Linked DNA regions of Homo sapiens: regions 1, 2, 4, 5 and 6 are each reported to be linked to region 3. The links are microRNA targets in miRTarBase. Many come from high-throughput screens and were not tested one by one. Region 3 holds a microRNA gene; each other region holds the end of a gene's coding sequence.

Region 1 (5,352 bases), not on the chromosome of region 3:
GAAATCCTGTATTGCTATCACCATTGGGTCCGTTACTCATTTGCTAACTAGCAGAGGGAACTATTTGCCCATCCTTTGTCTGAAATAAATGTTTGATAACTGGCCAGGCACGGTGGCTCACGCCTGTAATCCCAGCACTTTAGGAGGCTGAGGCAGGCTGATCACGAGGTCAGGAGTTCGAGATCAGCCTGATCAACATGGTGAAACCCTGTCTCTACTAAAAATACAAAAATTAGCCGGGCTTGGTGGCGGGTGCCTGTAATCCCAGCTACTTAGGAGCCTGAGGCAGAAGAATTGCTTGAACCTGGGAGGTGGAGGTTGCAGTGAGCCGAGATCACAGCACTGCACTCCAGCCTGGGCAACAGAGCAAGCCTCCATCTCAAAAAAAAAAAAAAAGAAAAAGAAAAAAGAAAATTTGATAACCATGAAATTATAGAATCATTGAGCCAGAAGCACCCCCAAGATTTTCTAGAACCCCCCCCTTTTTTATTTTAATTTTCTTAGAGACAGGGTCTTGCTCTGTTGCCCAGGCTGGAGTGCAGTGGCACAATCACTGCTTACTGCACCTTCACCCCCCTGGGCTCAAGCAATCCTCCCACCTCAGCCTCCTGAGTAACTGGGAATATAGGTGAACACCCACCATACCCAGCTATTTTTATTTTTATTTTTAGTAGAGATGAGGTCTCACTATGTAGCGCAGGCTGGTCTCGAATTCCTAGGCTCAAGCAATCCCCCGCCTTGGCCTCCCAAAGTGCTGGGATTACAGATATGAGCCACTGTGCCCAGCCAAAGCTCCCTGATTTTATAGTTAGAGAACTGAATCCCTGACATTGTGGGAGGTCATAATCTGCCCCCAGGTTACACTGCAAGTGGGTAGTAGGGCAAGGCCAGAACCTGGCCCCAGGTACAGTCAGCACTCTTTTCCTTATGCTGTTTGTCTCCTGATCCAAAAGGCCCAATTTCTCAGAGTAAATAACTTCAGATTTTTGTGTATCTATGAGAGCTACCTTTTATTCTTTACTACCCACTGTCATCTTACTTCTGCCCCTTTGCAATTTTTTTTGCATCTTAATATAAACTGCTTTATCTTTATTAAAAGCGAACTAATTTTCAACCATATTTCCTGAAGAACTTTTACTTCTGGTCATTAGTGATGAAACTCCTGAGATGAGAAAAGAAAGGAAAAACATAAAAATAATTGAATTTTTGCTTTTCTTTACAGACACTCTGGAAAACGGATCCAATAAGGGTGAAAGGTGAGCAAAATGTTCCCATTGGCCGTTCCTGCTTTTCAGCGATGGCATTTTCAATGCAAACTGCAGTGAGTTTGATCGTTTACTTTCTGTTTTGCTTAACTCCAGCGCAGCTAACAGAAAAGGACCAAGCAAGGATGACACGTATTGGAAGGAGATCAACGCAGCTATGGCCTTAACAAATCTTGCACAGGGAAAGGACAAACTGCAGGGAACTACCAGCTGCATCATCCAGAAGTCGTCCCATATAGCAGAAGTAAAGACTGTCAAAGTGCCGCTGGTGCAGCAGTTTTAAGAGCTTGTTGCTTTTCAGATCCAATGGATGTTCTTTCCGGTGTTTTCATCAACCCTCATCCTAAGAGCCGAAGCAGGGATGAAAATGACTCTCTCCCAAACCTCTTCTTATTTTTAATTATCCCAAATATATCATTTAGTTGCTTCTATAAAAGACATATAAATTATAAAAAACTCATTTTAATCAAAAATATTAACTTATTTTATGTTACTCAAACTATGCATAAAACATCTGCATTACCATTACAGTAAGTGCCTTGCTTCCCGACAATAAGCTCCAACGTGGGCATAGTTGAACAAGCTATGCCTCAAAATGCCAACGCCATATGCTTATTAGCCTGTGTGCATCATTCCAGACGGGCCTAATCATTCCAGGACTGAAACCAGAATCGCTGAAAGCCCTTGAAATACATTCAATAATTCATATGTTAAAACTTGGATATCTGTTCAGCCCAAATGAAATCTTCCTTTTAAAAAACGTCTACATTATTGAAAATTGTTCAATGTGCTTTTCAGAGTGACGGTGAGAATTTTATGCATGTATCTTGCCTGCATATTTGATATGTTACAAACTTCCAAAATTCAAGGTGCAGCGATCCACAGAACGTTGTACATTTAAGAAGTGATTCCTTCAAGCTAATTTAAAATTTCATTGAACACATGGTGACCAGGAAAACTTTTTTTCAAGCACTGTTGGAAAGCACCACAAAGCCCTTTAGAATTAATCTGGATTTGTTTCTCAAGTTCTGCTGAAGTTTAAAAAAAAACTTTATTATACAAATAACTCAAAATTTTCCTGTGTAAAACTAAACCTGTAGTTTTAAAACATAATCCTGTTTGCATTAGAGCTCACTGTCTTTTTGTGATGGAAACTGTGTTCGTATGGAATGACTAAAAATCTTTTATTTGGTTTGTTTCAAATTACAATTGCTGATGGACAATTTGTATTGCAGCGAGAACAACAGAATGAAAGAAATGTATCTCTGTGCGGCTATACATATACATACATAAAATTGATTTTTAAATTTAAAACATATGGAAAACAAAACATTGAACAGTTTGAATTTTGCCAAGTTGGACATTAAAGTAAAAATGAAGTGAAATCATGCATTGAAAGAAAACATTTTGTTTCTAAATTAGTCTACCATTGAGTGAGAATAATCAATATCAAGAAAGAAGACTATCTTTCTCAACTAAACAATAATATTCCAATCAGCTTGGGAAGACCTGAAACTTGAATAAGCAGTGGAAATGCCAAATATAACAGAGGGTATGTGCTACAGAGAAGTAAAAAGGGTTTGACTTTTTATGATGGGATTTTTTTTTTCTGGGTATGTAATCTATTTTTTTTTTAAACTGGAAAGCATTTTTGTCAGTGTGAATGAGGGTCAATAGTGCAGCCAGTGGTGACATTTTTCTTTATTTTGCAAAATGCTTTTAAAACCAAAGGCTGCTCTAGTTGATGGACAGTATCAGTCTTGATCTAAATTGTAGGACACTTTTTCATGTAACATAACATTTGGGGATTGGGTTTATTTAGTGTAATGAAGATAATTTGATATAAAAATATTTTGTGTATATATATATATTTTTACTTTGTTTTCTAAATTGCTGTTTGCAGTAACAGTAAGCGCAAAGCAAAATATATAAGTTATGACTGTATGATCAGATGAAGTATGAGTTCTTTTGGTTTGCATCCTTAAATAGTTAGAGATCTCTGATAAAAACTTTGGAATCTTTGCAAAACAATACAAAAATGCCAAAATGTGAGCATGTCAATGAAAACTAAAGACAAATACTTCACTCTTTTTCATACTATTATAAGTTATTCTGGTATTAAATATGTTAATAAAAGTGTTTTTGTTTTGACATATTTCAGTTAAATGAATGAATGCTGGTTGTATTTTATTTGAATGAGTCATGATTCATGTTTGCCATCTTTTTAAAAAAATCAGCAAATTTCTTCTATGTTATAAATTATAGATGACAAGGCAATATAGGACAACTATTCACATGATTTTTTTTAATACCAAAGGTTGGAAGATTTTATAATTAACATGTCAAGAAGACTTTATAGTAAGCACATCCTTGGTAATATCTCCAATTGCAATGACTTTTTAATTTATTTTTTCTTTTGCTGCTTTAACATTTTCTGGATATTAAAATCCCCCCAGTCCTTTAAAAGAATCTTGAACAATGCTGAGCCGGCAGCTGAAAATCTAACTCATAATTTATGTTGTAGAGAAATAGAATTACCTCTATTCTTTGTTTTGCCATATGTAATCATTTTAATAAAATTAATAACTGCCAGGAGTTCTTGACAGATTTAAAATAAAAGTTAATTTCTAGACCTCGATGATCGTATGGATTTTGTTTTCCTTTGAGAGCTGACCAGGTAGATGAAGCAGTAGAACAGACGGGCCCATTATATTCAGCAATTCTCCTTAGACTGTTAAGGGATATGATATGGGAGTGCTGCATTTGTATTAGGTTTGAATTTCATCACCTTAGGCCACCAATCCAGCTTTCAAAGACTGAGGAAAAGGGAGTGTGATGCCGACTATTAAAATACCTAACTTTAAAATGAACATTTTCAGGTAATACCTTCTTTCCCTCACTAATACAATTAGCATTATTTGTGGTGTGCTCTGCACTGGAGAGAAAACCTTGGCTTTGAAGCTAGACAGAACTACCTTTGAATCTCAGCTCTGTCCCTTACTACTTAGTCATTCTTATCTAGTTTCTTCATCTGCAAAGTGGGAGTAAGGAGCTATACCTTGTAGGGTTTGCACTAAGATTGAGATAAAATGCAATACATAAAGTGCCTACCTCAGTGTCTGTCAGATAATAGGTGCTTGGTAACTGGAACATATTATTGCATAGTTACAATTCCTCTATTCAGGCTTTATGCACAAGAAAGTAGAAATATTTAAAATAAATGGAACATAAGACATGGGTAGTTTAATGGACAGCTGTAGAGAGGGAGAGATGCCTGACAAGAAAAGCTGCTGTGCAATGGTGAAAATTGGTATCAGAGTTAGAAAGGCCTTCAAGGAAGATCATTTTAGCATCATCACTTAAAACTTCCAGGCAAAAAGCATAAAGCGTTGCGAAGCCAAGGCAGAACAGACATTCCAACAGAAAACACGATATGTGCTGTCACTTCCTTCTTTGGGATAAACAAGAATTGCTTTCCCTCTGTTTGTCCTGCTTGATACTGTTCAAGATGGCTAAGAAAAACTCAAGCTGCTGCCTGTGTTCTCCGTCTGCTCCAAGTAGCAATGTTTAACAAACAGTGGCAACAGCCATAGCCTGCTTTTAAACTTATCCAGCTCAGTGGTGTCACAGCATGCAAATAAACACAGAGAAGAAGAGCAAGCCACCCATGCTGTCCTGCCAGGGATGGCATAGGAAAGTCATGCCTTGGAAGGCGGTGTGTTGTGGTGGTAAGAACCTGGGCTGGCATGCTCTGGCTTTGCTACTTCACTTCTTAGTACCTTTGGGAAATAAGCATAAGCCTTCTTTCTATACCCATTGTTTGCACCTATAAAATTAGACCTGTGAAATTTACCTACTCCAACGATCTGTTGTGGGGAGTCAATGAGGCAGTCGATATAAAAGCACTTCGCAAACTGCATGGCACTGTACAAATGTTAGCGATTATGACCGTATTCCACGCAGCCCTAAAAGGCCTCATGTCTCACACTTTCTGGCACTGTAAACTGTAGTTTCCATGAAGCATATAGGACCCCTAGATTCTGTCAAATGTGTGTTAGGGTCACCATCATTGGGTCCTTGTGAGCAC
Region 2 (5,352 bases), not on the chromosome of region 3:
TCAATATCGTGAAAATGGCCATACTGCCTAAGGTAATTTATAGATTTAATGCCATCCCCATCAAGCTACCAATGACTTTTTTCACAGAATTGCAAAAAACTACTTTAAAGTTCATATGGAACCAAAAAAGAGCCCGTATTGCCAAGACAATCCTAAGCAAAAAGAACAAAGCTGGAGGCATCATGCTACCTGACTTCAAACTATCCTACAAGGCTACAGTAACCAAAACAGCATGGTACTGGTACCAAAACAGAGACATAGATCAATGGAACAGAACGGAGCCCTCAGAAATAATACCACACATGTACAACCATCTGATCTTTGACAAACCTGACAAAAATAAGAAATGGGGAAATGATTCCCTATTTAATAAATGGTGCTGGGAAAACTGGCTAGCCATATGTAGAAAGCTGAAACTGGATCCCTTCCTTACACCTTATACAAATATTAATTCAAGATGGATTAAAGACTTAGACCTAAAACCATAAAAACCCTAGAAGAAAACCTAGGCAATACCATTCAGGACATAGGCATGGGCAAGGACTTCATGTCTAAAACACCAAAAGCAATGACAACAAAAGCTAAAATTGACAAATGGGATCTTATTAAACTAAAGAGCTTCTGCACAGCAAAAGAAACTACCATCAGAGTGAACAGGCAACCTACACTATGGGAGAAAATTTTTGCAATCTACTCATCTGACAAACGGCTAATATCCAGAATCTACAAAGAACTCAAACAAATTTACAAGAAAAAAACCACCCCATCAAAAAGTGGGCAAAGGATATGAACAGACACTTCTGAAAAGAAGACATTTATGCAGCCAAGAGACACATGAAAAAATGGTCATCATCACTGGCCATCAGAGAAATGCAAATCAAAACCACAATGAGATACCATCTCACACCAGTTAGAATGGCGATCATTAAAAAGTCAGGAAACAACAGATACTGGAGAGGATGTGGAGATATAGGATCACTTTTATACTGTTGGTGGGACTGTAAACTGGTACAACCATTGTGGAAGACAGTGTGGTGATTCCTCAAGGATCTAGAACTAGAAATACCATTTGACCCAGCCATCCCATTACTGGGTATATACCCAAAGGAGTATAAATCATGTTGCTATAAAGACACATGCAAACGTATGTTTATTGCAACACTATTCACAATAGCAAAGACTTGGAACCAACCCAAATGTCCATCAATGATAGACTGGATCAAGAAAATGTGGCACATATACACCATGGAACACTATGCAGCCATAAAAAATGATGAGTTCATGTCCTTTGTAGGGACATGGATGAAGCTGGAAACCATCATTCTCAGCAAACTACCGTAAGGACAAAAAAACCAAACACCACATGTTCTCACTCATAGGTGGGAATTGAACAACGAGAACACCTGGACACAGGAAGGGGAACATCACACACCAGGACGTGTCATGGGGTGGGGGCAGAGGGGAGGGATAGCATTAGGAGATATACCTAATGTAAATGACAAGTTAATGGGTGCAGCACACCAACATGGCACATGTATACATATGTAACAAACCTGCACGTTGTGCACATGTACCCTAGAACTTAAAGTATAATTTAAAAAAAAAGATAACAAGACTGTATTAGCCCCTTTTATAAAGGCATTATAAACTTTTTTTTTTAATGTGACAAGCATATGAAGTAGATGGGTCAAAAAGGACCATCTCAGGGCTCTGTTTTGAAGAGTCTTATTTAGAGGTATCTAAGCCAAATGGCATACCACACTAAATGCTTTCAAATTTTAACCACAGCACTTAAAAAAAGAGAAAGAAAAAAGGAATACAACTTAGTTTAAGCACTCATTTTTATAAAAATGTGTTTTATTGTTTTAAAACAAGTCTATAAAAGTAGAAATCACATACAAAAATACAGATTACTCTGACATGTTGGCAAAATAGCTTATGGCTGGACTTGAGTTTGGAAGTTCTGTATGTTTGAGGGCATCCGATGTCAGAGTCCAACCGGATCCTAACCCCAGCTCTTGTCACTAATCTGTAAACAATAATTTCAAGTAGTATTTAGCACTTTTTAACTATTAAGAAATTGAAGCATCATCATTTCCTGTGCAACCCAACTTTAAAATCTTCCTTAGGTCTAAGCAGATAAAGGCACTTCATAGTATGTTTCTAACATTAACAATTTTTGATTTAAAAAAAAAAAGTTAATATAAATGACTGGTGTTAGCTTTTTTTGTTGTTACATTTTGAACATACGAACAAGTCATCAATTTAAACTAGTTTTTGTGATTTTTAAGAAGTAGAATTTGGCTGGGCGCAGTTGCTCATGCCTGTAATCCCAGCACTTTGGGAGGCCAAGACGGGCGGATCATGAGGTCAGGAGATTGAGACCATCCTGGCTAACATGGTGAAACCCCGTCTCTACTAAAAATACAAAAAAATTAGCCGGGCGTGGTGGTGGGCGCCTGTAGTCCCAGCTAGTCGGGAGGCTGAGGCAGGAGAATGACGTGAACCTGGGAGGCGGAGCTTGCAGTGAGCCGAGATCGCACCACTGCACTCCGGCCTTGGTGACAGAGCGAGACTCCGTCTCAAAAAAAAAAAAAAAAAATAGAAGTAGAATTTAATCTTTTCACTTCTCTGTACCAGTTTAAAAAAATATATATCACTGATGGTATCAAAAGGTCCCACATCTGGATTTTAACTCTTATGTAGGTATAAGTAGTGCTTACTACTGAAACTGCATGGAAGATATACCTGCTTCTACTGTATATTTCTGATTGAAGAGAACATGCAGTTCCTCTTAGGGAACTGTAGGTCTGATAACCTTATATATGGATAGTTTCAAACAATTATTGCTGAGAGATCATTTAAAAAAAAAATACAATTTAAAATACTTGATTCCAGAGTAATATAAAAGTAACCTTAAGAACCTCAGCGCTAAAGGAAAACAGCAGGCAACTTCAGAATTCTCCCATCCAAATTTTCAAGAATAGAGAGTGGATTAATACCACCTTTCTAAAACAAAGCAAGTCATTTTAAAAGCTAAAGGACCCATGTTAACATAATTTGATTATCAAGTTAGAAAACCACAATTATATTTCTCATCTAATTTAGATTCTGGAAACACAGTAACTTAATGAACATTACAGGATACTTCAGATTAACCTGTCATAGAAAACTGTCTGCTGGGCCTTCAAATCCTATATTGATTCTATATCTCTGGGTTTTGTAATGTTTGGTCTTTTGTTAAGTTTTAAGGTGAATTACATGGGGTTACTTATTTCTATTAACCTAATTTCAAATCTAAAGGCAAAATTCAAATACATTTTTCTCTTTCCTATTCCTAGAAAAGATGGCCTCAGACGCTACTATCCTATGATTCTCTTTTTGTTCAGCTCATAATACAAATAGCTTATTGTTCTTCTAAGCTGTCTTATAAAGCAATACTATAAAATTAAATAGATAAAAGTTATATGGGCTATGAAGATTGTTTGCTGGTGGTAATTTTTAAGCTTGATTCTGAATAGACTTAGTAAGAAGGGCACTTGGAAGAGGTGGCTCAAATTTTGCTCTTTAAGGTATCTTGAAATTATAGGCTCACTCTCCTAAAATTTCAAAAGGCCTACAACTTTGGCTCTTAAGAGCAAAGCAGTGATAGAAGCTTTTAGAATCATTTCAAAAAGCAAGATTTCATAGTTTTCCCTCTCAAATGGCTCCCTAGTATACTTGCAGAATGAAGGCAAAGGGAAAACCAAGAATAAAACTAGCTAAGTACTCCAGCAATTGGGCTTCCTGCCTATTTTCCCTGTTCTAAAGAAGAGACACCATCCTGCAATAAATACTTCATAGACAACTGGGCTTTTGCAGTGTCAGTCGGCATTTGATGCCCCATATCTCCTGGTTCTTTTTGTTGCCAATAGTTGGCCTGGCAATGGTGGTGAAATGGGAGCAATTAATCTGTAGATGAGGAAGGGCTTCCTTTAACAGTTGAAGGGTACCATCTGGCACGATTCCAAAAACTTGTAGTGTTTTTAGTGTGGGAATTTCTCCAAGTTCACTGGAAAGGAAGAAAAAGACTTTCAGAATAGCAGTATCTATGGAAACTGTTTGACTAGAGTTATATGACCCAAATTTTACAATTTGTGTCATCTACAAAATGCAGTCTGAAAGTGTAATTTACAATAAATGATTTGAGAAAATAGCAAATTAAACTGGAAAGCACAGACCATATAGCTTGAGCAACATGTCATTAGGAAACACACTGCTGCATTTTATTGAATGAGGTTCCTAATAACCTTAGAAACTCAGATTTATTTAAGAATCCAACCATATTTGCTTCCTTTCTCCAGTTGTGATTTATACAGTGATCTGAATGGGGTTACTGTGTTATGAGAAGAAACTAGCAAGTGAGTGATGGTAAAAGCAAATGTTTTACTGCGGCACCAGTTGGAACCACCACAGGTTACATGCAAATTAAGGATATGAACTTGACCTTTATTTGAACTAGGCTCATCTCTTAAAGGGAGATGCTGTCAGGACTGATGAACTTCTTAATAATGGTTCATAGTCAACAAGTCCATTATGTGTGATGAAAACTACCACTGACTTCCCTAAGATATTTTAGATAGGGTTATACAGTTGGGTACAGGTAGAGACAATGGGTGAAAAATCACACCCTTTATAGGAGGTAATAGCCATCTTACCTCCCTACGTATTACCATTTTTTTTCTGCATAGATAAGCCAGTCCCTTTAGGTATTTCACATTAGATGAAATTCAACCCTGTTAACAGTGAAATTCTGTTTCACAAATTCTGTTTCTCAAATTCTGTTTCACAAATTCTGTTTTTCCAAAGTAAATACTGTTTGGTGTTGGTAATGATTTTTTCCTTCTTAACTCAGATCTATGTGCCTAGAAATTCATCTCTCTCATCTCTGTTTGCTCAAGGTTGGGACATACAGTACAAAGTCTCAGGAAAGGGAACATTTATTTTGGAATTTCAACAAAATCCTACTACAGATCAATGAGCACATCAATTACCTAAAGTCAGAAACATCCTTTATATTTTCACATTGTCAATAATTATTTTTAAAAAGCCCCAAACTTTCCTTATAACTGTCTTTCTTCCTTCTAGCCTATTCTATATACCAATTTCCAAGGCATCCTCCTAAAGCCTAGCTCATGTTAGTCATTCATCTGCTCCAAAACCTTTGATGCTTCCCTTGTGTTTACAGAACCCAGGCTGTTCAGCTAGTCTGAAGACCTTCCGTGTTTAACCTGCTCTTCCAGTCTTCCCACTACTCCCCTAAATGTATTTATTCTACATTCTACAAGGTGTCTTAAACCCCACAAATGTTTA
Region 3 (5,352 bases):
TGGGTTACTGGGGAGAGAGGAAAAAGGAGACTCATACATTTCAATGTTTGTACAAGGTGCAAGTATTACATAGCTAAACTGAATACCTTTTTTTTTAAGTTAAACACTAACTCTTTGGATTACCGCTTGGTAACCTGCTAGAAGACTATTAGGTTCAACAGTAGCATCTCTGAGGAGTTACCTAGGTCATACCTGGGCTTCCTTGGCCCCATCAGTAACTGTTACATGAGACCTGTTTTCAGCATGGAAGGCACTCTACCATCTCAAATGATTTCAATGGGAGGGTAGAACTCCAGCCCATTCAAGCCCAGGGTTCCACAGAGACCCCTTGGTTGGACTCTGTCAATGACTAAACCCTTGGGCTTACGCTGCTGGGCTAGCTGATGTGGGACAAAAATCTCGCAGATGCAGTGGCCGAAATGTCCTTTCGGGGCCATAAATCTGCTAGGAATGGCTGCATTTGCCCTTTAGCCCAGAAGTATCCTTAATCTGGCCCTGGGGGGAAAGCCTCTTTAAACTGTGTGTTCTCTCCAGCTGGAGAAGCTAGCCATCGGGGAAAGAAAACTGATTCAGAACTGCAAAAGCAATAAAGAAAGAAGCCAGATACAGGACCAGACACAGATCTTTTCTTGGAAGGTAAATCATACCATCCCTTATCTTGTGAATTTAGTCTCAATTATGTCCCCTGTTGGCAGCAAATGCCCTGTCTTTTCTGCACACCAAAACCCATTCCAAAGTCCCAGCACCAGGAACTATGAATATCAAGAAGTAGTTGGGAGAAAAACAGAAACAAGTGTTCTTAATTCATATTTTGTGTCTGCTAGGAGAATCCTTCGTCTAAAATACCTCTTCCACCATGCACCTAAAAAATCCAACGGAAAACCTCAACCTCTTAACTCTAACACCTACAAATACTTTGTTTTGATCAGTGTAAATCTGTTTGCTAGGAGGCAGTTTCAGCTTCCACCTATCCCGCCCTGGAAGCAAGGCGAAAGCTCCAAGTACCCTGAAGGTGTCTCTCTCCTGACAGCTCTTCCAGAGGCCTCAGCCCTTCAGCCCAGGCTCACCAAGCAGTAGGCAGCCTACCACAGATGAGATGCAACTGTCTCACCCAGAAACCGTCAGATGAGGAGAAATGGGAGGCACTAAGAGGCAAGAACTGGGGAAAATCAGCTCAAGAATCTTCAGGCCCTACCAGCCCTTTCTCCTCTCTGGGTAACATTTTCTCCGGGTAAGTCTCAACGCTTATTGCTCTGGTCTCAAGCTATCTCAATTTTCTCAGGAAATGCTGAGTTGGGCTTAAAAGCCCACCATCCCGAAAGATGGTGCCCTGTCCCAATTCCCTATTTCTTTTCTATTTGTCTCTCCACTTTTCCCCGACCTCAGGTCTTGGAGTCAGCTCCCTTTAGCTAAATAAATGGGGTGGCTTTTTCCATCCTGCATTTCAAGATGAAGATTGAGCTGCAATTTAGAGCTCTCCAATCCCTCCCTCCACTTGGCCCCATGACAACTTTTCTTCTGTGACACTTTATATTTGCCACCTCCTTCCCATTGCAACCACTTCCCTAACCTCCACTTGCATCATTCCGGAATGTCTGAGTTACATTCCCTGCTGAGCTAGTCCCCACCCAACCTCTGCCTCTCCCCATTCCCAGGCAGCCACCCACTCCGCCCAGAGGTTTTCCAAAAATCCCATTCACCTCTGGGTAGTCCTGGCTCAAGCATCTCAGGGGCTTCTTATTGTCTCAAATCCCAACACGCAGCTGGGGTTCACAGAATGAACTTCCAGCCCTAATGCTCACTACGCCCCACCAGCACACTCCAACATTGCTTCCCAAGTGCTAGGCCCTGAGGATTCCACAGTGATCAATGCAGGCACAACCTCCACCCTTGCCGGCTTCCCACTGCCTTCCTCCACGCCAGCGAGGCTGGGGCATCACCCTCTGTCTCATCACCTGGCCTCACTCCCATTGCCACTGTCCGGGGGCACCCGCCTCCTACGAACTCAAATATCACACATGCGAGGACCAGCTCCTCCACCCACCTGAGAGAGTCCCCTCATCTTGCAGGGCCTCGGATTCACATATTCTACCCTCAAGGGGTTCACTTCTAACTGTTCATCACTGGTCCCATTAACAGAGCCACCATTACGGTGTGTCCAAGTGTCAGGCACATGACTGTGTGATTTCATTTGTTTATGTGTTATTTCATTTGTACAGAATGAACGTGTGTTATTTCATTTGTACAAAAGTTATTGCATTTGATCTCTACCCAACAGCCCCCACTGGTTGGTTTCCTCATCTATAAAATGGGGGTAGTAAGACAAGGAAGGAAGGTCTTACTGCCCTCATTTTATAGATGAGGAAACCAAGGCTTGAAGAAGCTAAGGAACTTGCTGATCAGGGCTAAGCCTGAACTCCATCCTGTCCGCCTGACTCCAGGGTCCATGCTCTCAACTCTGCTATGCCACTCCCCGGTAATTCCCTATGTGTGTTTTGTTTTTGTTTTTGAGATACAGTCTCACTCTGTTGCCCAGGCTGGGGTGCAATGGCACGATCTTGGCTCACTGCAACCTCTACCTCCTGGGTTCAAGTGATTTTCCTACCTCAGCCTCCCACCACACCCAGCTAATTTTTTGTATTTTAGTAGAGATGAGGTTTCACCATGTTGGTCAGGCTGGTCTCGAACTCTTGACCTCAGGTGATCCACCCGCCTCGGCCTCCCAAAGTGCTGGGATTACAGGTGTGAACAACCGCGCCCAGCCCCCTGTGTATGTTTATGCATTTAGCATCTCACCTGGCACAGAAGCAGGATCAATGAGGTCATTACTACTCTTCCACGCTAGCCAGTCACTATGCAAGCATGTATTTTGTCCAGCACGTGCATTCCCTCTCTCCCAACCACGGATAAACAACTCAGGGCAAGGCCACCTTGTCAGATCCTCCTGTGGCCTCACAGCATCCAGTAAGGAGCTGTGCATAGCACAGATGCACAGTAAATGCTGAAGGAAAGAACCATTTCTTGGAGTACTGCCCAGTAATAACTTGTCCTCCTTAAGCCACTCAGTCAACTGAGAAAACGCAGGATTAGAAAATGGGGCATTCATTCTGCTAGATACTGATTGCCACGTAAGAATATCAGAAGTATAAATGGACAGAAAGATGGCTCAGGTCAGCAAAAACACAAATAGCTATTTTGCAACCAGTTGGAATGGGGCAGTCAAAAGCCAGGAGGGCTGAAGAAAACCTTACAGTCTTACTGAAACAGCCTTGGGCAACATGGCAGGGAGAAGAGCCCTGCCTTAGATGGAGGTAGACTCCCAGTTGGCCACAAGCCATGCGACAACAAATGGCTCTTATGATAAAAGCTGCAAACGTCCATGAAGTGATAACTTCAGAAGGAAAGGGGAGGGTCTCAGGTTGGTCTTTTCAGCCCTGTGCACTGTAACACCCTGCCACACCATATTGCAACATCCTGTGGAACGGCAGCATATTCTGAGAACCTCAGGCCAGAATCTGGTTTGCTGCTGTCAGAGCTTGGCTATAACTCTTCCTAGTGAAGCTGAGAGAGACACTGAACCTCTCTGAACCTCGGGTCTGTCATCCATAAGCAGCAAAACCACAACCATAACCAGTTCCAGGGAAAACTGGTTGATAAAATAAAACTAGCCAAGTGCTGTAGCTCATGCCTGTAATCCCAGCACTTCAGGAGGCCGAGGCAGGAGGATCGCTTGAGCTCAGAAGTTTGAGACCAGCCTGGGCAACACAGTCTTTACAAAAAATACAAAAACTAGCCAGGCATGGTGGCACATGCCTGTAGTCCCAGCTACTCAGGAGGCTCAGGTGGGAGGATCATTTGAGCCTTGGAAGTTGAGGCTGCAGTGAGCTGTGATTGCACCACTGCACTCCAGCATGAGTGACAGAGTGAGACCCTGTCTCAAAAAAAAAAAAAAAAAAAATCAGCTGGGTGTGGTGGCACATGCCTGTAGTCTCAGCTACTTGGGAGGCTGAGGTGGGAGCATTGCTTGAGCCCAGGAGGTGGAGGCTACAGTGAGCTTGGATGGTGCCACTGTACTCCAGCCTCGTGACAGAGCAAGACCCTGTCACACACACACACAAAAAAAAGGTGGGGGGGGAGAGAAAAAAAGAAAAAAATGAAATAAAAAAACTATAAAGTGCTACACACACATAAGGGATATTATCAAGAACAGAACATCAGCAGTCAGCTCCATATGGTGTCCTGGAGTAACACTAGTTGAGATTAGACCCCAGTATTTGCTGACGTCTTGATGGTTAATGGGCAGGGGAGAGGCCACCAATATTGTTATTGGCAATTGCTCTATTTTTCTTGAGGTAAAGGGTAAATTCCCCTTTGTGAGCAAAACATCTTTTTCTGTATTGTAATTCCATTCTGCTATCTCCAAGCATTCAGTAAAATGTTGTGAAATGCCTGACAGGTCGTTTGTGTATTTAAGGCAATATGGTATGAAGGGTGAAGCAACAGCCCTGAGGCAGGGAGAACTAGGCAACATACAGAAGAGAACAGCTGGCCAAGGAAATAACCAAGCCAGACAGATGACATTCATTTAACCTATGTTTTTCACTCCCTAACTATGTTCCAAACTTGGTGGAACACATAAGCATCCCTGGGTATTTGTAGAAAAACTTGGGGAAGGGAACTCTATAAAAGATAGGTCTTCTTTTTTTTTTAAGATGGAGTCTTGCTCTGTCACCCAGGCTCCCAGGCTGGAATGCAGTGGCGCGATCTTGGCTCACTGCAACCTCCGCCTCCCAAGTTCAAGCAACGATTCTCGTGCCTCAGCCCCCTAAGTAGCTGGGACTACAGGTATGCACCACCACGCCTGGCTAATTTTTGTATTTTTGGTAGAGATGGGGGTTTCGCCATGTTGGTCAGGCTGGTCTCGAACTTCTGACCTCAAATGATCCACCCGTCTGGGCCTCCCAAAGTGCTGGGATTACAGGTGTAAGCCACTGTGCCCGGCCTAAAGACAGGCCTTCCTACAGGTCAAGGAAGCTTGACTAATTGTTATTAGGGATTAAATTGAAAAACTGTCCCTGAAGACAAAGAGGTCAGGACCATCTAAGACTCAAAAGTCCAATAATTACAGTTGAAGGTTTTGCCTTCAACAGTGTTCATCCCACTATCTCCTGGCTCCCATGATTTCTGAGGAGAAATGAGCTGTTAATCTGATCAAAGATCCTTTGAACAAGATAAGTTGCTCATCTCTTGCTGCTTTCAAGATTCTTTGTCATTTGACACTTTGATTATGAAATATCTAGGTGTGGATCTCTGATATTCATCCTCATTGGAGTTCACTGAGCTTCCTGAGTG
Region 4 (3,000 bases), not on the chromosome of region 3:
TAAAACACCTTAGATTGTGCCATTTCTTTGCTCGAAACTCTAATGGCACCAGGCATGGTGGCTGATGCCTGTAATCCCAGCACTTTGGGAGGCCGAGGCGGGCTGATCACTTGAGGCCAGGAGGTTGAGATCAGCCTGGCCAATATGGCAAAACCCCGTCTCTTCTAAAAATGCAAAATAATAATAATAATAAAATTAGCCGGGCCTGGTGGTAGGTGCCTGTAATACCAGCTACTCGGGAGGCTGAGGCAGGAGAATCGGGGGCGGAGGTTGCAGTGAGCAGAGATTGCGCCACTGCACTCTAGCCTGGGTAACAGAGTGAGACTCCATTTCAAAAAAAAATGCAGAGACACGGCCGGGCGTGGTGGCGCACGACTGTAATCCCAGCACTTTGAGAGGCTGAGGCGGGTGGATCACCTGAGGTCAGGAGTTCGAGACCAGCATGGCCAACATGGTGAAACTCCGTCTCTACTAAAAATACAAACATTGGCCGGGTGTGGTGGCGCGCGCCTGTAGTCCCAGGTACTCGGAGGCTGAGGCAGAAGAATCGTTTGAACCCGGGAGGTGGAAGTTGCAGTGAGCCAAGATCACACCACTGCACTCCAGTCTGGAAGACAGAGTGAGACTCTGTCTGGGAAAAAAAAAAAAAAAAAAAAAAAGCAGACACCAACACCTAGACTACGCTGACCATTTGAAAAAGAAATTACAGGTATAATAAGGACTAAGAAGAAACAAAATTGTTTGTATACACAGAATATATGGTTGTCTATGTAAAAAAAACAAACAAACCCACAAGAATATGCAGATACAAGAATGAGAGGTAGCAAGGCTGCTGGATACAAAAATCGAAATCAACATTAGCTAAAAACAGAAAATGTGGTAACTAAAAATATACCATACGAAGTAGTGTTAAAAAGCATAAAGTCCCTAGGAAATATTAACAAGAAGACCTTTATGGAGAAAATTATAAACTTTATTGAAAGATATTTCAAAGGCCTAAGTAAATGAAGAGCTGTACCATATTCATGTATTGGAAGACAACATTGTAAAGATGACATGGTTTACCAGATTAATCTATAAATTCAATACAAATCCAATCAAAATTTCAATGCTCTTGGGTTTGTTTGATTTATAAATTGTTGGTCTAATTCTAGAAGTAATATGGAGGAACAGTTGGCTAAGAATAGCCAAGACACTCCAAGGAAGAACAATTTTGTGGTGATACTGGAGACAGAGGTGAAATTGGTTACAATTATGACAAAATGTGGAGGCATCTTGGTTTTTATCAGACCTTTTCCTAAAGTTGCAATAATCAGGACTGTACTGTACTGCTACAAGATTAGACAAATTGATGTCAGTCAGAATAGAAACCATCAAAAGACCCACACACATACACAAAAATTTAATTTATGAAAGAGGCAGTGTTACAAATCACTGGGGAAAGGATGAACTTTTCAGTAAATAGTGCAGAGACAACCACTTCGAATATGAAAAATGTTAAGTTGAATTTCTAACTCATAATTTTCACAAAAATCAGTTCAGGACAGACTAAAGACAAATGTGAAAGGCAAAACTATAAAATTTCCACAAGGCAGTAAAGAATATATTTATGACTTTGGGTAGGAAAGGATCTCCCCCCAAACCAATTTGTATTCAGCTTTATATGATACTTTTTAAAAACATTTACTTTCAGCAGGAAATAGGCAACAATCTATAACATTTTACAATTTCCAAACTCCCCTCCTCCAAAAGTCACCGTAAAAGTTAACAAGATATGTCGTTGCTGTTTTGAACAAGAAAGATTTTCAGAGAGGGTGGACACTTCACATGAGGCATGTATGAGCTTTTCTCAGGCCCACTTTGACATGGAGGGACTAAAGTAAAACCAGCAGGATGAATCCACAAACTGAAAACAGGAATCTTGGCTCTTTTAAGTGACACCATCTCGATGTCATCAACAGAAAGCCTGAGTTTTGTTACCTAACACAGCTGATTTTAGGGTTGCCAAGGCCACATCAAAACTCTCGGTTTAAGGAAGTCAAGTCTATGCTGATGGCATCGGGGAAAGGGGAGACACGAAGTTTTGGTTCCCCACACTGTAAGGCTTCCGTGCCAAAGTGGCTGACACGTGAATGTCAGAGAATCTCTCCTGGGAATCAAGGGAATCAAGAACAATCTTCAAAAACCAGGACAGAAAATCCTATTTTCCCTTATTTCAATTCAGTTTCTGAGATACACCCTATTAGTGGTACTTGCCCTTTCCACAAAAGACAACAAGGAAGTGTCCTGTGTGCTAACAACATAACTTAAAAAAGCCAAAATTCTACACTTTTATAAAACTTGATTTAAAAAAATAGTATTTCAAACAGTAGAGTCACTATAAGTACAGAGCTCTCAAAAATGTACATTTCACTTGGCATCCCCAGTGCCTTCCGCTTTCTGGGACTGGAGTGTAGAGGCATCTCGGTTTTTTGCAGGGTTGTTCCCATCCTTTCCAGCATCTGCTTTCCCCTTTCTCCCTTTGGGAAGCTTCTCTCCCTTCTTTGCAGAGGCCTTTTTAGGCCTGGGCTCTGGTTTTGGAGGAGCTGGTTTAGCAGACAACCGAGCTGATCTCCTCTGTGGCTCATCCTTCACCTTTGCTTTATCACCTTTAGCATCTCCTTTTGCCTTTCTCTTGGGCATGGTAGCAGCAGTGTTCGCAGGTGGCTTGAGCAGTCCTGTTGGGTGCTTCTGTCCTCCTCACGCTGTTCCTGGAAAGATGTCTTTAACAAGACACAAAAAGCGTAAACCATAAAGGGAAAGACTGACGAATGTAAACGTTAAAAATCAAATTGACTATATTGTTAATAATTCGTGTATATCAAAAAAGATAGCATAATAAAAGTAAAACAATAAGTACCAGCTTGGCAAAGATATATGTAAAATATATAATGGACAAAATGTTAGAATCCTGAATACATAAAGCATTCCTATAGATCCATGAGGAAAGGACAAAATGAA
Region 5 (5,247 bases), not on the chromosome of region 3:
TTTGGTAACTGTAACCAGTTAACTTTCAGGGCTAGATATGACAACACATCCTGCAAATTCCTCCATTTTAATCTAATCAAAATATATAATGTGCAAAATACAAAATAAAAGAGGAACACAGTGTCTGCTTGGGAAGGCTTCCATTTACAAACAGCATGTTGAAAAAGTTCACTTTTGTTTGGAGGACTCTATGTTCCCATAGCAACAGTGCTCTAAGTGTGTGTGTGTGGGGCTTAAATTCCAAGGACTCACAAGGGCAAATTAACTCTTAGTTACGTGAAATATTGTGTTAGTCCTGATAGGGTTAAACAATGACTGTACTTGTAGTGAAACAAAGAAAAAATTGATATGAAAATAAGATTGAAATATTTTAAAATCCTGTGGCTCAAAGGAAAGCAGGATGAACTAGGGGCCAAATGAAGAAGCTGTGGGGCCTTGGGGTTTGAGACAGGGCACTTAATTAAATGTAACGCTGTTTTCCTTGGTGCGAGGGCCCCCATACTCATCTGTATTGTTCAGCCCTCAAGAGAATCTTCACTGGCTGGTAAACGAACAAGAATAGCTGGAGAAGGAATACTTCATATAGTATAAAAAAGACCCTTGGACAGGCATGGTGGCTCCAGCCTGTAATCCCAGCACTTTGGGAGGCTGAGACAGGACTGCTTGAGCCTAGGAGTTCTAGACCAGCCTGGGCAACACAGCAAGACCCAGGTGCGGTGGCACGAACCTGTAATATTAGCTACTTGGGAGGCTGAGGCAGGAGGACTGCCTGAGCCCAGGAGCTTCAGGCTCCAAGTGAGCTATGACTGTGCCACTGCACTCCAGCCTGGGCAACAGAGCGAGACCTCGAAAACTAGCAGGTGAGCAGGTTAAAGCTGAGTTCTCTGCTCTACTTTCAGAGTCTTTAATATGCTAATTTCTTCATGAGGTTCACAGAATGTCGTCTAAACCCAAGTGACCATAACCCCTTCCTTCCTGCAGCATCTCCAGGGGCAAGAGTTCTGGGAACACACCTGAGACAAGTCTCCTGCAATGCCAGTCTTGGCAAGCCCTCCTCCCGCTCCTCAGCTTCCCCTTCCAGCAGGCAACCTCCCCCAACACCCCCTCTCCTGCTTTGCCTTGGGCTACTTGTACTTAATCCGTCCAGAGGTTTTAGTTGATACTCTAATGTGATTTCTGCATTTCCATCTGAAAACCAAACAGATTTTTGACACAAAGGAAGCTTCATAGCAGGATTTCAGGCACCTTTATTCATGGCAGATATTTTTGGTCAGGGCAGCCTGCCTTTGAAATCGTTCCATTACTTGAGGAGGTCGACTCCTGCCTAAGTCACAACTCTCCTACAACCGCAACCGGCCATATCATTTCCATTTGCCACTTCCGAGGCTTGAGAACATCACCAGGGACGCAGGTTTCGGATGGTCTGGTCAATGCTGCAGTGTGTGTGGGGCATTCGGGGGCTCCAGCCTGCATCACAACCTACTGGCCTGATCAAAGGAGGTTCTGTAGTTGGGTAACCAGAGTGGTGAATTCATTTTATCACAGAAGGATCTCACTCCTTTATGTTCCCCATGTAATTTGTATACAGCACAAATTATTTCTTACTTTGATAGATTTGCAATATAAACACCAAGACTGGTGAGATGAGAAACTTAAAAAAATCATGTTTTTCAAATTTTCAAGTTTTTGTGTAAAAGCACTTTGTGGTGACAATCATATGGATCACCTTCCAGGTCATCAGTATTGGCCTCTAGGTTTAGCACTCCTGGCACTGCATTTTTGAGTGGCCAGAGATAAAGGTATTATCCCTGTCTTCTATAATCAATGATAACATTGACACTCTGCAAGAATTTAGATAAGAAACAGTTTAAGTAAAATAGTGTTTTTTAAAAACTTGAGTCTACTACAAGTCGTTGATCATATTCTAGCCAAGCAACTGGCATGGACTTAATATGGTCTCTTTTCCTTCTCTCTTTCTTTTCAAGTCACTAGCTCAAAGGAAAGACTGATTGAGTTTTAAAATCCTGCCAGATTTTTTATGGTAACCATTGTAGATGAACCACGTAGGTAGGGTCCTACTGAAGTATTAGAATCTCATGCAAAACTCTAACAAACGCCTCATTACAGAAGGCTATTCTGTTATTTTCTGTACTGTAAAAGTTCTGACACAAGACAGTGGCAGTGGTTACTTTTCATCGACTTTAGCATGTGATCTCAGGGACTCAGACATACGTCTAAGTTCTATTCTGAGTTTTGGCAACAGAGCAGTGACAGATATTTCTGAATGAACAATTTTTAGGTGTTTTCAGCCATTTGAAAAGTATTGCCAACACACTATTTGGTGTTAGCTCAACAGTCACGTTGTGCCAAGAATTAAAGAACTCTAAAGTCTACAAACATCTTACTTCACCAAGACTAACTATAATTGAAGGGTTTACTATTTGTTTAATAAAAAATCACACATCAACTTTTATCCAAACAGCAACTACTACAAAAGGAATGACAAGAAAAAAAATGACTTCACAGAAATACACTAAAAAATCTGACAATGTTATGCAAGAACCGCCAAAGTTTTAGTGTTTAATAATGAATAGCACAACTGACCAAGGTCCAAGATGTGAAGATACCATGTTCAAGAAACTGGGGGGAAATCACTCTACAAACTAACTATATACTAGGTGATAAGAATGCATACTTTATAATATAAAACCTGTCTACACATAGTAGTTAGCTGCAAAAAGCCATTCGATCTTCTCTTGGCTTGGAAAAATGCCAGATTCCAGTATAAATTATTAGCAACCTGTTGAAGAAGGAAAAATCATCAACATGTTTTTCATTATATGAGCACAAGTAAAAATGACATATAGACCTATCAACTACAAATCCCTTTCCACTCTCCTACTGAGTTAAACTTATTTTCTTCTGGCAATATTTTAGCAATAGATTTAACTGGAAATATCTTTAAAAGTTTCAGAGTCAGTTTCCTACTCCCACTCTTTTCTTTGAATGACCCCCATCACTAGCCAGTCTACCATCCTGAAATTCTTGTGGTAAGATAATCAGTCAGTTGATGGCAGTTTTGATTGCCACATAATATAAAAAGAGACCCACAGAAGCATCTGAGACTGGTAGGACATTTTTCCAAATTATCTCTGGATAAGAATAACGATGACATAACCCATAGAAAGCAGTTATGTGATTTACTCACACAGTGAATGAACCCCACCTACTGTGAAGATAAAAGCAAATTTTAGAGTCTGTCTTCAACATCCCAAATCTGTATTTCACAGTGACTTAAAATGTGGTCCACAGCAAGCCCAGAAAATAGGAAATTAGGCATGTTTTACTGTACATTCTGCTTAGTACTCTACGAATCTAAAAATACTCAGGAACCATTTTATTTTATTTTTTTGAGACAGAGTCTTGCTCTGTCTCCCAGGCTGGAGTGCAGTGGCATCATCACGACTCACTGCAAACTCTGCCTCCTGTCTCAGTCTGCCAAGTAGCTGGGATTACAGGCGTGCACCACCACACCCAGCTAATTTTTGTACAGACAGGGTTTCACCATGTTGGCCAGGTTGGTCTCGAGCTCCTCACATCAACTGATCTGCCCTCTGCCTGCCTTTGCCTCCCAAAGTGCTGGGATTACAGGCATGAGTCACCACGCACCAGTACCTTTTTTTTTTTTTTTTTTTTTTTGAGACAGAGTCTCACTCTGTCGCCCAGGCTGGAGTGCAGTGGCGTGACCTCGACTGCAACCTCCGCCTCCCTCAGCAACATTCATTTTTATAGAGAATTAAAATGTTATAAATGAAACAAGAGAAAAGTGAGTCTAAAACTTATTTTTCACACATACAGAGGAAAAGGATCACCATGCACTCTGCTGAGTGATTCTGTACATTTACCTATCTTGCTGTGTAGGTACTTTGAATTACTAGGCTTTCCTCTGACATCTGAAACTATTCAGAGGAAATTTAAATGAACTCCAGGGTAAAAGCTTAATGTGGCCACAATCTAGTTCACCTATGTCAAGTTACCAAGAAAGTCTCCAGAATTTAAGCCATTTAAGAAGGTGGTAATGTGGGTGACTTATCAGTTATTTCCATAAAAAAAAAAAAAAGCAATGGAAAATCTTCCAGTGACAGGCTTTATAGGCCAACAAAAAGACACCTTAATTATTAGCTGGAATGATAAAAACTCAGTGGTTATCTAATGTTAGCCAGTGGTCTTCACTAATAGTGACAGAAGTCTAATTAATAAAAACTGGGAAAATAAATTCGGTGTAAAGAATGAGTTTGGCATGAAAAATTTCAAAACATCAAGTCCACAGCAGGTAAACAATACAGTGATGCTTGCTGGGATCATGGCTGGGAACTGATCTACAGAATGTCTGACTACATACAAATTATACTTACAGGTTCTCTCTATTCTTTTAAGACAAAATAAAAAAAAAGACCGGGCACGGCGGCTCACACCTGTAATCCCAGCACTTTGAGAGGCTGAGGCGGGCAAATCACTCAAGGTCAGAATTCGAGACCAGCATGACCAACATGGAGAAACCCCGTCTCTACTAAAAATACAAAATTGGCTGGGTGTGGTGGCACAAGCCTGTAATCCCAGCTACTCGGGAGGCTGAGGCAGGACAATCGTTTGAACCCAGGAGGGCAAAGGTTGCAGGGAGCCGAGATCGTGCCATTGCACTCCAGCCTGGGCAACAAGAGCAAAACTCCGTGTCAAAAAAAAAAAAAAAAAAAAAAAGAAAAGAAAAGAAAAAAAAAATTGCCCCCTTCCTCACCTTCAACTCTTTTGCGTGGCAGGTATCTTGTTTTCACTTTCCAGTTCTTCCACCCCAGCCTGTGTCATGAGGTCCGCGATATTCTTTTCCAGATCATCAATGCGACTACTCATATCATCAAGTGCTGAAGTTAAAGACAACGCGTGCCAACATCTCATTGAGCCTTTTTCCTCCCGTCCCTGCAGACTACAGCCTTAAACACAACGACTTTAGGGAAACTGGTCTTCCAATTTTCTTTCGACACTGTTACACGCTGGTGGGTAAGAGTACAGGACTGTGGGGCATGGCTACCCCGCATCGGATTCCAGCCCTGACCCTTACTAGTGATGGAACCCCTAAACCTCAATTTATTCATTTGCTAAAGATGATAACACTACAACCCACTCATAAGGTCATGCTGAGCATCAAAAGACACACACAAAAGCGCTTAGTTCACAGTGCATGGTCCACCA
Region 6 (5,352 bases), not on the chromosome of region 3:
AGATGAGACGATGACCAAAAAGTGACTCTGGTGGGCACCTGTCTGCAAACCACTGCCTAAGAGATGTGGGTGAAGGACTGGGTGGCAGAGAAAGGATTGCATGCTGTGCTTGGGGCCGACTGTAGCTTAAAGTCAGGATGGCGTCAAGGCACAGAGTTGGTGGATGTGTTTCAGCAGTGAACAGAAAAGCAGGAGAATGGAGGGCTGGAACATTCCTGGAATTGGAATTTTTTAGGATAGATGCAGGAACTGAGGCTTCTAAGTGAGAAAACATGGACTGTGGGTTCGGACTATAGAAAGAAAATCCGGGAGCAGGTGGGGAAAATGGCACTTTTTAACTTAAAAGCATTCAGCCTTCATTTGACAGAATGGATTTTATGCTTTATTAGTTGATCAGATATGGAGAGCATCTAAGGCATCTAATATCATATGCTCTCACTGGGTTGAGTGTAACTGAAAAGCAGATTGAGTGAGTTGGCAAAATCCTTGGGATTCAGGGCACACTTACATCTGGTTGGTGTGTAAATTAGTGTCACTTTTCTGAGGTTAATTTTCCAATGTCTGCCTATTGAAATTGTGATAGTCTTTTGACCCAGAAAGTACTTGTTCATGCACAGCACTTAAAAAGAAGTTACTCAGCAAGTGTTTTTTTTGTGTTTTGTAGCTGTTCATGTTGATTTAAATGAGTAAAAAATTTGAACTTTTAAATTCAATATACACCTTTAATACTGTGCAAATGTTTAACTCCTCCACATAGGTAACTGAGAATATTATTTTGGAAAAAATATGTAAGACTCATATTGTCTTGATAGAGTGTTCATCTCTAACTCATTCAAACTCTCTTATTAACCATGTGCCACAAACTTAAATAGATTTCTTTCATTTTCAGACAAAGCACAGTTGCTTCTAGACCAAGAGGCTGAATCAGCATCCCAAAAGATAGAAGATGGTAAAACCCCTAAGCCACTTTCTCTGAAATCTGATAGGTCAACAAACAATGTGGAGAGGCATACTCCAAGGACCAAGATTAGACCTGTAAGTTTGCCTGTAGATAGACTACTTCTTGCAAGTCCTCCTAATGAGAGAAATGGCAGAAATATGGGAAATGTAAATTTAGACAAGTTTTGCAAGAATCCTGCCTTTGAAGGAGTTAATAGAAAAGACGCTGCTACTACTGTTTGTTCCAAATTTAATGGCTTTGACCAGCAAACTCTACAGAAAATTCAGGACAAACAGTATGAACAAAACAGCCTAACTGCCAAGACTACAATGATCATGCCCAGTGCACTCCAGGAAAAAGGAGTGACAACAAGCCTCCAGATTAGTGGGGACCATTCTATCAATGCCACTCAACCCAGTAAGCCATATGCAGAGCCAGTCAGGTCAGTGAGAGAGGCATCTGAGAGACGGTCTTCAGATTCCTACCCTCTCGCTCCTGTCAGAGCACCCAGAACACTGCAGCCTCAACATTGGACAACATTTTATAAACCACATGCTCCCATCATCAGTATCAGGGGGAATGAGGAGAAGCCAGCTTCACCCTCAGCAGCAGTGCCTCCTGGCACAGATCACGATCCCCACGGTCTCGTGGTGAAGTCAATGCCAGACCCAGACAAAGCATCAGCTTGTCCTGGGCAAGCAACTGGTCAACCTAAAGAAGACTCTGAGGAGCTTGGCTTGCCTGATGTGAATCCAATGTGTCAGAGACCAAGGCTAAAACGAATGCAACAGTTTGAAGACCTCGAAGGTGAAATTCCACAATTTGTGTAGGGATGTCAAATTTCAGGGTTTTTTTGTTGTTGTTGTGTTATTTTGTGGTATTGTGCTTGTTTTGTGAAAGAATGTTTTGACAGGGCCTCTTTTGTATAGGACTGCCAAATCATGGGTTTTGCCTTTTGTTGTTGTATTTATCCTCTGTTGGTAATACTGAATGGTAGAATGTTTTGATAGGGTCACATTTGTGCCTCACTGGAATTATCTTTAAATTCTGTATTTTTAAAGTTGTGAATAAGATAGGTGGATTCGTATTTTTTAAAGTTCAGTTGACTTTCCCCACCAAATGGTCCATTTGAATGCATCCCTAATATATGATATAGTCTCAACTAATAGGTGCAATTTGGGAAAATCAGGTTTATTTTTTGGAGTGGAACTGTTATAAGTGCTTATTTATAAAAGGAATGTTTCTGAATGCAAGTGCCTAAAAAGATCTTTGTTGGTATGCATATGTTTTGTCACACAATTTTATAGTGCATCTTTCACCATTTGTGCTTTTTTAAGATACGTATGTAAGCTCTTATTTTTCAATTGGCAATTCAGTTAATTTTTAAATGTTTACATAATGGCCAGAAGGCTTGCAAATCTGTATTTAATTGCATTTTAATTAATTGCCAGTTTTTACATGTGATAGTCAGTTGTACAAAGAAAATGCACTTAAACCTGTTTCTAAATTATATATTCAGTTATATTATATTTGGCTTTAGATGGTTTTAATACATTTGATAGTTTTTCACCCCTTGGCTTTATTTTATATAAACTTTTGTTTTTCAGCAGTTCTGAACTTTTTAGTATTTTATAAATGGTCCAAAAAATGCCTGTTTCAGAAGTTTTTGAATTCAGTGCATTTCCTCTTGATTTGTCTGGGTTAAAACCATTCCTTTTGTATGAAATGTTTTGACTTAGGAATCATTTTATGTACTTGTTCTACCTGGATTGTCAACAACTGAAAGTACATATTTCATCCAAATCAAGCTAAAATTTATTTAAGTTGATTCTGAGAGTACAGGTCAGTAAGCCTCATTATTTGGAATTTGAGAGAAGGTATAGGTGATCGGATCTGTTTCATTTATAAAAGGTCCAGTTTTTAGGACTAGTACATTCCTGTTATTTTCTGGGTTTTATCATTTTGCCTAAAATAGGATATAAAAGGGACAAAAAATAAGTAGACTGTTTTTATGTGTGAATTATATTTCTACTAAATGTTTTTGTATGACTGTGTTATACTTGATAATATATATATATATATATATCAACTTGTTAAATTATTTCATGTTCCCGTGGCTTCTTTTCAGTTGTTGCCTATTACAGTATGAGAGTTTAAGGTTATTAACCATTGGCTTAGAAGTCAACACCTAGGATCATACATCCGTTGACTACAATGTGGAATGAATTTTATGGAAACCTGTTTTATAGTTCTATGTGATGTAAAGGTCTAGGGAGCAATAACCAGCCCTTTTTTTTCTGAAGGCTTGTTTTTAGTCCTCATTGTACAAAATATAAAATAATCATATTGCTATGAATACCTAAAAAGAAAATTAGAGCCCATGTGTATTGAGCCTTCTCTGTGTGCCAGGAACTTTGCCAAGGTGCTACATAGATTATTTTATTTCAAGTTCACAGCAACCTATAATGGGTGGGTAAGCATGTTATTATTTCTGTGTTACAGATAAGGAAACTAAGGCTTAGTTAAATGACTTGCTTCAGTGTTCCACAGGTGTAACAGGTGGAGTCAAATCTCAAACATAGGGCTGTCAGATTTTGATGGTTAGTGCTCTTAATGACTGTGATTACTAAATAATATCTGGTAGTTTTTAACAATAGAAAATGCAACTTTAAAAAATTTTTATTGTGGTAAAATACACATAACATTTACCATTTTTAAGTATATTGTTTGAACCATTTTTAAGCATATAGTTCAGTGGCATTAAGTATATTCACATTGTTTTGCAACCATGAGCACCTATTCATCTCCAGAACATTATCATCATCCTATACTAAAACTTAGAAAATGTACTTTTAAACTTCTTCAGTTCTCTTTTAATATATGGAGCCCACCCAAAGGTTATATCATGTAATAAACTCATTTCTCTGTTTTCCCTCACAGCTTAAAAATGAGAATTTCACTTTTGGGTCCTTTCTGCCTTTAGGGCTCCCTGGCACTTTGTCCAGCGTAGAGCCTTAAGCCTCTAGATGCTTTCTAGTTTCCTGGGGCCCTGAGGCAAGTATCTCTTGAGAAGAGGTTGCTATTTCTAGAGGATCCACAGTGTGCACTGTGTTGTGCTATCTAATAGTGTGGTGGAAATCATTTATCCAGAAGTTGTTTTTTGCAACATGGAAAGATACGTGACCAAAAGGAAAGGGCAACAGCAGGAGCCCTGTTAGTGCTGCCAGAACACCAGGAAGCCTTGTGGGAGGCGTATTGTCCAAGATGATGCGTATTGTCCAAACGACTCAGAAGAAGTCATTTCTGAAGGGTTGATCATAACTTCCCTAGCCATGTTTTACCTACAGAGAACTTAGTTAGAATTTATGAGTACAGTATGTTAAATTACTTTTAGTGTACCTTAGGCAGTGTATTTGTTTTGATACAGAGACAAAGACTATATGATCCCTGAGACTTGTTGCCTAGTGAACTCACAAGCAGATAGAATTGTACCTCAGTTATTTGGGTGATTTAAAGATGGTACTATGGCTACACTATTCCCAGCTATCGTTGTGTTACAGTATTTATACAACTGGAAACATCTCTCTAAATGACAACCATTGTATATTGTTAAATAACTTATAGTCAGTGGAATTCTGTGGGTTTTTCTTTCCTACAGGCAGGAAATTATGGTGATGTGTTGATATGATTATATATGTAGACTATTCAGTTAACATCTAGGAGTTAGCAAATTTGCTACATTCACAATCAGTATGTAAGTCAGTTGTATTCCTAGATATCAGCAACTAACAGAAATGGAAGTTTTTAGAAAGATCTCTTCAATATCATTAAAAAATACAAAATACTCTACCTAAGAATAAGTCTAACAAAAGATGTACAAGATCTTGATGGAGAAAATGTTAGACCATGTCAGGAAGCATTTAAGGAGATCTTAAATAAATGTAGTACTCCATAATGTACACGAATTAGAAGACTCAGTCGTGTAAAGATGTTCATTTACATTTGTAGATTCAATGTAATCCCAACCAAAATATTTTTTGCATTATTACCTCTATCTACTGTGTGTTTCCTTAAGACAAGGGCATTCCTACGTAACCATAGTACAACCATCAAACTTAGGAGATTGACATTGACATCATGATATCTAATCCATAGACCACATTCAATCTGCTGATTTTGATTGCCTCAGTAATGTTCCTGTGTTTCAGCATCCCAATCCAGGACCACATAGTGCATTTAGTTGCCCTATCTCTTGTTTCATTCAGTCCAGAACATCTTTTCAGACTTGTCTTTGACCTTGACACTTGAGGAGGATTGGCCAGTTTGTAGAAAGTTCCTCAGTTTTGGTTTATCATTAGATAAGACCCATAAGGTTTAGGATAGACATTTTTGTCCAATACTACAGAAATGAT

The links. Region 3 holds the annotated microRNA hsa-miR-3163 (UAUAAAAUGAGGGCAGUAAGAC, at 2,336-2,357, opposite strand). A microRNA usually pairs through its seed, bases 2 to 8, with sites in the 3' UTR of a target mRNA and lowers its output. Matches are read on the target gene's strand: a 7mer-m8 pairs with bases 2 to 8, a 7mer-A1 pairs with bases 2 to 7 and ends in A, and an 8mer does both.
Region 1: the mRNA of MKX is a reported target of hsa-miR-3163. Seed matches in the 3' UTR shown: 7mer-m8 at 1,748-1,754, 7mer-m8 at 2,077-2,083, 7mer-m8 at 3,450-3,456 and 8mer at 3,591-3,598.
Region 2: the mRNA of SKP2 is a reported target of hsa-miR-3163. Seed matches in the 3' UTR shown: 8mer at 3,442-3,449, 7mer-A1 at 2,904-2,910, 7mer-A1 at 1,878-1,884 and 7mer-A1 at 1,844-1,850.
Region 4: miRTarBase lists HMGN4 as a target of hsa-miR-3163. Seed matches in the 3' UTR shown: 7mer-A1 at 2,333-2,339 and 8mer at 1,575-1,582.
Region 5: the mRNA of HSBP1 is a reported target of hsa-miR-3163. Seed matches in the 3' UTR shown: 7mer-A1 at 2,703-2,709 and 7mer-A1 at 587-593.
Region 6: miRTarBase lists ARHGAP29 as a target of hsa-miR-3163. Seed matches in the 3' UTR shown: 8mer at 2,239-2,246, 8mer at 2,522-2,529, 8mer at 2,567-2,574, 7mer-m8 at 2,685-2,691, 7mer-m8 at 3,166-3,172, 7mer-A1 at 3,182-3,188 and 1 more.

What each region holds. Positions count from the first base shown.
Region 1 is chr10:27,671,425-27,676,776 of GRCh38, reverse strand. MKX (mohawk homeobox) reads left to right here. Exons shown (of 7, transcript NM_173576.3): 6 at 1,223-1,256; 7 at 1,362-3,903. The coding sequence ends at 1,548. Among named protein-coding and RNA genes, the nearest start is that of MKX-AS1, 71 kb to the left of the region's middle.
Region 2 is chr5:36,180,517-36,185,868 of GRCh38, reverse strand. It overlaps SKP2 (S-phase kinase associated protein 2), which reads right to left. Exons shown (of 10, transcript NM_005983.4): 10 at 1,550-4,051. The coding sequence ends at 3,838. Among named protein-coding and RNA genes, the nearest start is that of SKP2, 31 kb to the right of the region's middle.
Region 3 is chr11:66,932,141-66,937,492 of GRCh38, forward strand. MIR3163 (microRNA 3163) reads right to left here and starts at 2,366; the gene lies at 2,294-2,366. The region is part of intron 3 of PC (pyruvate carboxylase); the gene reads right to left.
Region 4 is chr6:26,544,889-26,547,888 of GRCh38, reverse strand. It overlaps HMGN4 (high mobility group nucleosomal binding domain 4), which reads right to left. Exons shown (of 2, transcript NM_006353.3): 2 at 956-2,762. The coding sequence starts at 2,682. The coding sequence ends at 2,410. Among named protein-coding and RNA genes, the nearest start is that of TRA-CGC1-1, 7.1 kb to the left of the region's middle.
Region 5 is chr16:83,808,974-83,814,220 of GRCh38, reverse strand. HSBP1 (heat shock factor binding protein 1) reads right to left here. Exons shown (of 4, transcript NM_001537.4): 3 at 4,796-4,916; 4 at 1-2,800. The coding sequence ends at 4,798. Among named protein-coding and RNA genes, the nearest start is that of HSBP1, 3.6 kb to the right of the region's middle. RefSeq lists enhancers at 1-269, 270-781, 782-1,293.
Region 6 is chr1:94,170,287-94,175,638 of GRCh38, reverse strand. ARHGAP29 (Rho GTPase activating protein 29) reads left to right here. Exons shown (of 23, transcript NM_004815.4): 23 at 890-5,352. The coding sequence ends at 1,770. Among named protein-coding and RNA genes, the nearest start is that of ABCA4, 52 kb to the right of the region's middle.